3 separate regions of the Homo sapiens genome follow, and regions 2 and 3 are each linked to region 1. Evidence: fine-mapped expression QTL. A gene starts in region 1. Each other region holds a variant in brackets. All regions are shown on one strand. Distances are from middle to middle.

Evidence for each region.
Region 2: its variant is fine-mapped to the expression of RAD51D in whole blood (TOPMed, PIP above 0.99).
Region 3: its variant is fine-mapped to the expression of RAD51D in whole blood (INTERVAL, PIP above 0.99). The same link has a PIP of 0.9 or more in blood mononuclear cells.

Annotation. Positions count from the first base shown.
Region 1 is chr17:35,118,796-35,121,555 of GRCh38, reverse strand. RAD51D (RAD51 paralog D) reads left to right here and starts at 1,696. Exons shown (of 10, transcript NM_002878.4): 1 at 1,696-2,024; 2 at 2,384-2,445. The coding sequence starts at 1,943. RAD51L3-RFFL (RAD51L3-RFFL readthrough) reads left to right here and starts at 34. Exons shown (of 7, transcript NR_037714.1): 1 at 34-265. RefSeq lists an enhancer at 1,364-1,423 and a silencer at 1,634-1,833.
Region 2 is chr17:35,095,519-35,098,278 of GRCh38, reverse strand. RAD51D (RAD51 paralog D) reads left to right here. Exons shown (of 10, transcript NM_002878.4): 10 at 1-2,760. All of the region lies in intron 5 of RAD51L3-RFFL (RAD51L3-RFFL readthrough), which reads left to right. Among named protein-coding and RNA genes, the nearest start is that of RAD51D, 23 kb to the left of the region's middle. The variant A/G (reference allele first, on the strand shown) is at 1,083.
Region 3 is chr17:35,170,321-35,173,080 of GRCh38, reverse strand. UNC45B (unc-45 myosin chaperone B) reads right to left here. Exons shown (of 20, transcript NM_001267052.2): 13 at 1,619-1,759. Among named protein-coding and RNA genes, the nearest start is that of SLC35G3, 23 kb to the left of the region's middle. The variant T/G (reference allele first, on the strand shown) is at 1,458.

The sequences.
Region 1 (2,760 bases):
GAGTGTAACAATTACAGGCCAGCCTCCCCCCTTGATTTGAGGCTACTGCTGCCAGGCTAGCTATGTGGCTGGCCAGACCAAGGGCCAGTGTGACTGTGAAGCAGCATCATGAGAGGGGTAAAACCAAGGAACAGACTGCATGAGCCCTTGGGCCCCTTCCAGCTCTAATACTCCATGGTGATGGCAGCCCTGCCCTTCTCTGAAGATCTCAAAATGCCTGACACCTGTGTCCTTCCGCACTGCCCTGGGAAGGAGAATAAGGATGGTGAGAGATGGGCGTGGGATGTAGAGGATGGTGGTGTGGCCCTGAGAGATAGGCAGTATTGGAAAGTGTCTGCTGGGGAGGGAAACTTTGTCCGTAGAAGCTAAGGCTCTCTATCCTGAAACCATAGGCTGCAGACTCCACTGTGCCCAGTCGGTTAGTGAAAGGGAAAGCCCACATGGTTCATAGGGGTTCATGGCTCACATATGATCAGACTTCACTGCTAGAATTCTAAATGTGCCACACCCACACTCCCAAGTACTTTCCTGTGTGGAGTGACAATGGTGGCAGTTGCAGTGGGATACAGAGATGGGCCACACATGATCTCTGCTCTCAGAGAAACCACCTTACAGTAGGAAAACATGTACACAGCTTCAGGGGTGGGGAGGGGGGCTGTTAGAAAGCACTGGCTTTGCAGAGTCAGATGTGGATGTGAAGTCCAGCCCTGTGCCGCCTAGCTGGGTGACCTTTGGCAAGTGATTTAACCTCACTGAACCTCAGTTTCTTCATTGGTGAAACAGGGATAAAAAATAGCGCCTCCCTCACAGATTTGTGATGAGATAACCATGTAAAGTTTTATTTCTTCCTATGGATGAGGCAAAGCAAAGGACATTTAAAAATACCAAATCATATCTTTTTGTGTGTGTTCTATATAACCAAGGTTTCTTGCCCTTAAAAAAAATAAAAAATAAAATAAAAAATAGAGGCCGGGCACGGTGGCTCACACCTGTAATCCCCGCACTTCGGGAGACCAAGGCAGGAGGATTGTTTGAGCCCAGTAGTTCGAGACCTGTGTGGGCAACATGGTGTAACCCCATTTTGTAGAGGCGAAACCTCTACAAAAAATACAAAAATTAGCTGGGCAAGGTGGCACGTGACTGTAGTCCCAGCTACTCAGGAGGCTGAGGCAGGAGGATCGCTTGAACCCAGGAGGTCGAGGCTGCAAAGCTGAGATCTCACCAGGGCACTCCAGCCTGGGCGGCCGATCGAGACCCTGTCTCAACCAAAACAAAACAAACTTTTGAAAAATAGACGCAGGTGCCCTCTGGATGCTTTGCTGCTTCTTGACACCTGTCGTATAATCTGTAATGATGTGATTTCTGCGATTCCTTTTCATTGTCTGTCTTTCCCTTGCTCACAGTAAGCTCCCTGGGGGTAAGGGCGGGTCGTCTTGTGTCGCATTTTGTCTCCAGCGGAGATCCGTTCCGTTTGGAACGGAAGCTGGCGCACAGAAGGCTCTTTAGAAGGTCGGTGTGTGTGTTGCGGCAGAAGGTAGAGGCCGAATGTGGCCGCGGGTGGCGTGTTGAGCGCGGAGGGGGTCGTGGGACTCGGGAACCTGTGCAGGCGGTGGAGAGGGGCGCAGCGGCTCTGCCCCGTGCGGCCCGCAGATGGCGCTGCAGGCCAGGTCCTCGCCGCGCGCCAGCCTGGAACCCGGAAGCGGCAGCGCGGCGCGACCCGGCGGGCGGGCTCTGGGCGCGGGAATCCCGGCGGATCCCGGGCGGGCGGATGACCCCCAGCCCTACCCTTGGTGCCGCCTCCTCCTCTCTCCTTTCTCCTCCGGCAGCCAGCGCGCCTGTGTCCTCTCTAGGAAGGGGTAGGGGAGGGGCGTCTGGAGAGGACCCCCCGCGAATGCCCACGTGACGTGCAGTCCCCCTGGGGCTGTTCCGGCCTGCGGGGAACATGGGCGTGCTCAGGGTCGGACTGTGCCCTGGCCTTACCGAGGAGATGATCCAGCTTCTCAGGAGCCACAGGATCAAGACAGGTGACCGGGTGTGCGCGTGCCAGGGAGCCGCGCGGGCCTCGCACAACCTGGGCAGGCCCCGAGGGCTGGCGCACTGCCCTGGCATACCTGCAGGGCGCTTCCCCTCCATTCCTAGAGGGCCGCGCTTCTGGAGAGGCTCAGGAAGGGTGGGCGTGGGGAGCCAAGCTCTAAAACAGGGTAGAGATTCCTACTGTGTGCAGGGCACCGCGCCGGCTCCTGCAGCTTTGTTATTTCACACTGGCCTCCTGAGACGGCCTGCCGGGGGGTAGAATTGACACCCCATTTGACAGATGAGGAAAAACCAAGTGTGGGAGGCCCCAGTCCTCTCTGCCAATCCGCTATACGTGTTTTGTTTTCAGTGGTGGACCTGGTTTCTGCAGACCTGGAAGAGGTAGCTCAGAAATGTGGCTTGTCTTACAAGGTGAGCTCCTGATCTCCACATTCCAAACCTGAGTGTCTTTTTAAAAAGTCCATCCCAAGCCAGCTGGGCGCGGTGGCTCATGCCTGTAATCCCAGCACTTTGGGAGGCCGAGGCGGGTGGGTCACTTGGAGTCAGAAGTCAGGAGTTCGAGACCATCCAGGCCAACATGGTGAAACCCTGTCCCTACTAAAAATACAAAAATTAGCTGGGTGTGGTGGCCCACGCCTACAATCCCAGCTACTCGGGAGGCTGAGGAAGGAGAATCATTTGAGCCCGGGAGGCAGAGGTTGCAGTGAGCCGAGATCGTGCTACTGC
Region 2 (2,760 bases), 23 kb after region 1:
TGGGCAACAGAGACTCTGTTTCAAAAAGAAAAAAAAAATCCCCACATTTTATTTAATTTTCAGTCCATACAGTTCTATTCCTGCTAGGGCTGTAACTCCAGCTGAAGGCACCACAGCTGTCACCCAAGGAGTTTCTGTGGCCATGGGAAGGTGTTGCATTCACTGCTACTTGAGACCACCACGTGACATTCCTGCAGGCTGTGCCCCTCACAGCCAGCTTCATCCTTTGGCTCCTCCTAGACCAGGACTTTGTCTTGCCTGCCTGCTGCCACTGCACTCTGTTCCGGCCACACCACACTGTGCAGTCCCCTGGTAGGACTTGGGCTAGGCTGGCTCTCCTGTCCAAGTGCCTTTTGCTCCCTTTGCTTATGTGTCTGTCTCTGCCCAGCTCCCACTGTGTCTGGTGCACACCCACCCTGACATCCTTTTTTATGCCTCAGCTGTGATCTAGATAGATGCTTACAGTAACTTCCCTGTATTAGTTATTCACTTGTACTTTCTGTTCACGTGTCTGCCTACAGGCTCCCACTTTTTGTCACTTTTTCTCTTTATACATTATGGAAGCTCAGTAATGATTAAATAGATGAATGATGTTTTAAAAATATATTTTAAAAAAGCAAAGGACTGGCTCTATCTCAGGGGTTCCTTCCATAAAGCGTCAACTTTCAATTTCCCCTGCGGGGGTGGTTTGAGACCTGAGGGCACTCTCTAGTTCTTAGGAAAAAAATATACATATACATATACATATATATATATATATACACACACACACACACACATATACACACATATATATACATATATATACACACATATATATATATACACACATATATATACACACATATATATACACATATGAGCCAGGCGCAGTGGCTCACGCCTGTAATCCCAGCACTTTGGGAGGCCAAAGTGGGCGGATCACAAGGTCAGGAGTTCAAGACCAGCCTGGCCTATATAGTGAAACCCTGTCTCTACTAAAAATACAAAAATTAGCTGGGTGTGATGGCTCGCATCTGTAATCCCAGCTACTTGGGAGGCTGAGGCATGAGAATCGCTTGAACCTGGGAGATGGAGGTTGC[A/G]GTGAGCCGAGATTGTGCCACTGTACTCTAGCCTGGGCAACAGAGTGAGACTCCATCTAAAAAATATATATATATGTTCACACCCACATCATTGAGTCCCCAGAGTGTCTTCTTACATATCTTTTTACAGGGGACTATTGTATGCCCTTCGTCTGACATCAGATGAAATTAATGTTGAGATCCTACTATGTGCTAGCACTTGATGGCCTTAATTAAAAATCAGGCATTTGAATTCCCAAGGACTCAGGCAAAGGTCCATGTATCATTAAGGCTGCAAGTAACAAAACCTAGGCTTAAAGAAGTGTAAATACTAGGGACACTTATTTATATTTATTTCTTTTATGTTTCAAGACAGAGTCTTGCTCTGGAGTGCAGTGGCACAATCACGGCTCACTGTACCCTCTACCTCCCAAGCTCAAGTGATCCTCCCACTTCAGTCTCCCAAGTAGCTGGGACTACAGGTGTGTGCCACCACACCCATCTAAGTTTTGTATTTTTTGTAGAGACGGGGTCTCTGTACGTTGCCCAGGCTGGTCTTGAACTCCTGGGCTCAGGTGATCTACCCGCCTTGACCTCCCAAAGTGCTAGGGATTACAGTCATGAGCCACCATGCCTGGCAGGGACACTTATTATCTCTGATAACAGGAAGTCTGAGGTTTGTTAATTTAGTGGCTCATTGTCAAATGGCGTAGAGCCTTTGCATCCTTCTGCTCTGTTCTTTTATGTTGGTTTTGTCTTCAAGCTTGTTCCCCTTATGAAAGCCTGGCTGCAGCCATTTTGAGCATCAATCCAGACGTGACAATATCTACAGGCAGGAGAAGGATCGCCTCCTGTGTGTCCTTTAAAGAACAAGGTGTTAACATGCCAGGAACTGTGGCTCCTGACTGTAATCCCAGTAATTTGGGAAGCCAAAGTAGGAGGATCGCCTGAGGCCAGGAGTTCCAGACCAGCCTGGGCAACATAGCAAGACCCTATCTCTATAAAATAAAATAATAAAAATTAAGAAAACAAGGTGTTAAAAGACAAAATTAAAGCAAATATAGTTTTGCAGATTGTAATTGACTTTTATTTGCAATTCTAGAATTGGGCTGCCCTCAGAACCAGGACAGGTTCAGAGAATTCCAGAGCTGCAACATAGTCTGAAAGCATTTATGGTCAGAAAACAGAAATGAGATACAAAGACAACTAATTGGTTACAGCTCTGCCTTTGCCTTATTTGAAAATGGTTTGAATAGTTGGCTGCCTGGAACCCACTGAAGCTGATGATGTGATTGGCTGAGCCTCAGCAATCTGTTACAAAAGTATACTCCTAAATTAGGTTTTCAGTTAGTTTGCATACTAAGGCTGCAGTTTGTTAAGGGCCCAAGTAAAGCCTCCTCAGGTCAATTTTTTTTTTCTTTTTGAGATGGAGTCTTGCTCTTGCTCAGGCTGGAGTGCAGTGGCGTGATCTCAGCTCACTGCACCTCTGCCTCCCGGGTTCAAGTGATTCTCCTGCCTCAGCCTCCTGAGTAGCTGGGACTACGACTACAGGCGCCTGCCACTATGTCCGGCTAATTTTTTGTATTTTTAGTAGAGATGGGGTTTCATCATGTTGGCCATGGCTGGTCTCGAACTCCTGACCTCAGATGATCTGCCTGCCTCAGCCTCCCAAAGAACTGGGATTATAGGCATGACCCAC
Region 3 (2,760 bases), 52 kb before region 1:
CTAGAAACAATAGGAAACTAAGACACTTCTCCAGATTCCCTCTTCCCAAGCAACTGCCAAGGGGTATACAGCACGCCTTGCTGTCGTGTGTGATTGTCTCTCCTCTCTTCTTCCTTGCCTTACCTAATCCCAAGACAGAGCCTGAGGAGCTGATACCGTAGAAAACCAGTCCCAAAGATTCTCTCATTCACAGAGGAATGAAATAAAAGACGGATAATCCAAAAGACTAAATGATGCGTATATTGTTTTTCTTGGAGAAGGCTGAGGTGGGAGTGGAGGTAGAGAGAGGGTATAGGCAGGAAAGGACACAGTGGATGAAGCCGCCATAACAATGGATTGGGTTTGCTGGAAACCCAAAGTCAACCCAGGGTTAAAGAGTCCCTACAGATAATCCTCAGAGTGAGGAGTGGTGGGGAAGGGGCTGACAACCCTGGGCAAGCCCTGGAAGCCACACTGGAACTTCACAGCCACAGCACATGCTCTGCACCCTTGCCTGGATGAAACATCATGCAGCTTTCAAAAATGATTCAGAGGCCAGGTGTGGTGGCTCATGCCTGGATTCCCAACGCTTTAGGAGGCCGAGGTGGGTGGGTCACTTGAGGTCAGGAGTTTGAGACCAGCCTGACCAATATGGTGAAACCCTGTTTCTACTGAAAACACAAAATTAGCCGGGCATGGTGGTGCATGCCTGGAATTCCAGCTACTTGAGAGACTGAGGCAGGAGAATCACTTGAACCTGGGAGGCAGAGGTTGCATTGAGCCGAGATCTCACCACTGCACTCCAGCCTGGGTGACAGAGCAAGACTCTGTCTCAAAAAATAAATAAATAAAATAAAAATGATTCAGAGAATGAGATGGCAATGTGAAAAACATATTTTTCCAAAATTGGGCACAAAATGATAAATATATTCTAATTATAACTGTGAAAGGAAAAAAGATACATAGAAAAAAAGCCTCTGGTAGGTAACATAACATCAAAATGCCAACAGCAGTCATGTGGAGATGACGTAATCATGAGTGGTTATTTTCTTTTCCCCACATTTTAACTCGTTTTGCAGCATGATTATATTACTTTGATCATTAAAAAAATCTAAATGATTTTATTGGCTGGCAATATCTTGCATATATTCTTAAACAAATCACACACAAATCATATCTTCATGTGCAGGGAATTGTTGGAGAGGGTTCCAGGGGATCTGTGACTTCTGGGCTAATGCTGACCATGCCTCTCCTCTCATGATTCCTACTTAGCACCCATGTCACAAAATCCAGAAATCTGAGAAAATCAAATTGTTATCTGTTGGAGACATGAAATAAAACTGTCTTTTATCCATAAAATCAACAACACAAATTGCAAAGTGTCCATCATGGCTCTGTTTGTTTTCTCAGACTATAAATTGTTGGATTTTTTTCAAAATAGAAAATAAAAACAAAGAAAAAGCATGAGCACCATCTGG[T/G]GGGAAAGTTTACCATTAACATATTCAATGTATGTGTATCTTACCCCCAACCACCCAAACACACACCGTGCCACTCCTGACACCACTCCTTTTGCCGTTCCGCCTCCTTTGGAGGCCTAGTGGCACAGACCAGACCCCTCCCGGGTCGCGCCTGACCCTACCTTGGGGTGTTCCTCGGGCACATGCTGCTTGGAGAACTTGGCGAGCTGGACAAGCTCTGGGATGACCTCCTTGACATCGTAGCTGTTGGTGCAGTTCACCAGGGTGGTGGCCACCGAGTACAGGATGGTCTTGTCACTGGTCTGGAAGGCACAGGGTTGGGGAGAGGGAAAGCAGAAAGGAAACTTTAGGACAAACCTCTGCTTCCAGGATGCTCCCTCACGTGGCCGGCAGGTTGGTGTCGGAGGAGTGCAGCTGGTAGGGCCCATTCTGAGGAAAGACAGCAGCGCAGGAGAGGAACGGTTCTCCCCATAAAGGCAGGCAGCAGTGTCTCCTGCACCCTCCACAGTAGCTCTGACAGTATGAATAGGAGCTGTCCCACAAAGATCCTCGCTTTGCGCCTCTTCCACAAGCCCAGTCTAACACTTTCCCATCCAACTGGAGATGGGGTGGGAGCTGGACATTTTCCGGTCCTGGTGAAAATCTCTCCCATGCTTCCTCCATTTACTGGTAGAAAAGGGCCAGGGAGTTGGCCCAGCAGATGAGGAAAGGAGTCTGGGGGGGCCTGGGAGGGAGGGCAGGTTCCCAGAAAGGCCAGGCACAGCCTCTTTTATTTATTTATTTTCTTGAGGCAAGGTCTCTCTCTGTCACCCAGGCTGGAGTGCAGAGCTGGAATTCTAGCTCACTGCAGCCTCGATCTCCCAAGGCTCAAGCAATCCTCCCACCTCAGCCTCCCGAGTAGCTGGGATTACAGGTATGTGCCACCACGCCCAGCTAATTTTTGTATTTTTTGTAGAGTTGGGGTTTCACCATGTTGCCTAGGCTGGTCCTGAACCCCAGAGCTCAAGCCATCCGCCCGCCTCAGCCTCCTGAAGTGCTGGAATTACAGGCACGTGCTACGATGCCCTGCTTTTTTTTTTTTTTTTTTTTTTTTTAGCTGCCTCAGGTCCTTCAAGACCTCACCTCCTGAGGGCCCCAGGAAAACAAACTGCCCTCCTGTGCATCTTCCCATCTCTGGAAGGCATTGGGAGTCGGGAGTCCATTTTACAATCAGGTAAAATGAGGGCCAGAAAGGGGGAAATAACCAATCATGTTTATACAGGGGTAAGGAGTAGAGCCAGGAGGAAGACTGGGATCCATTCCC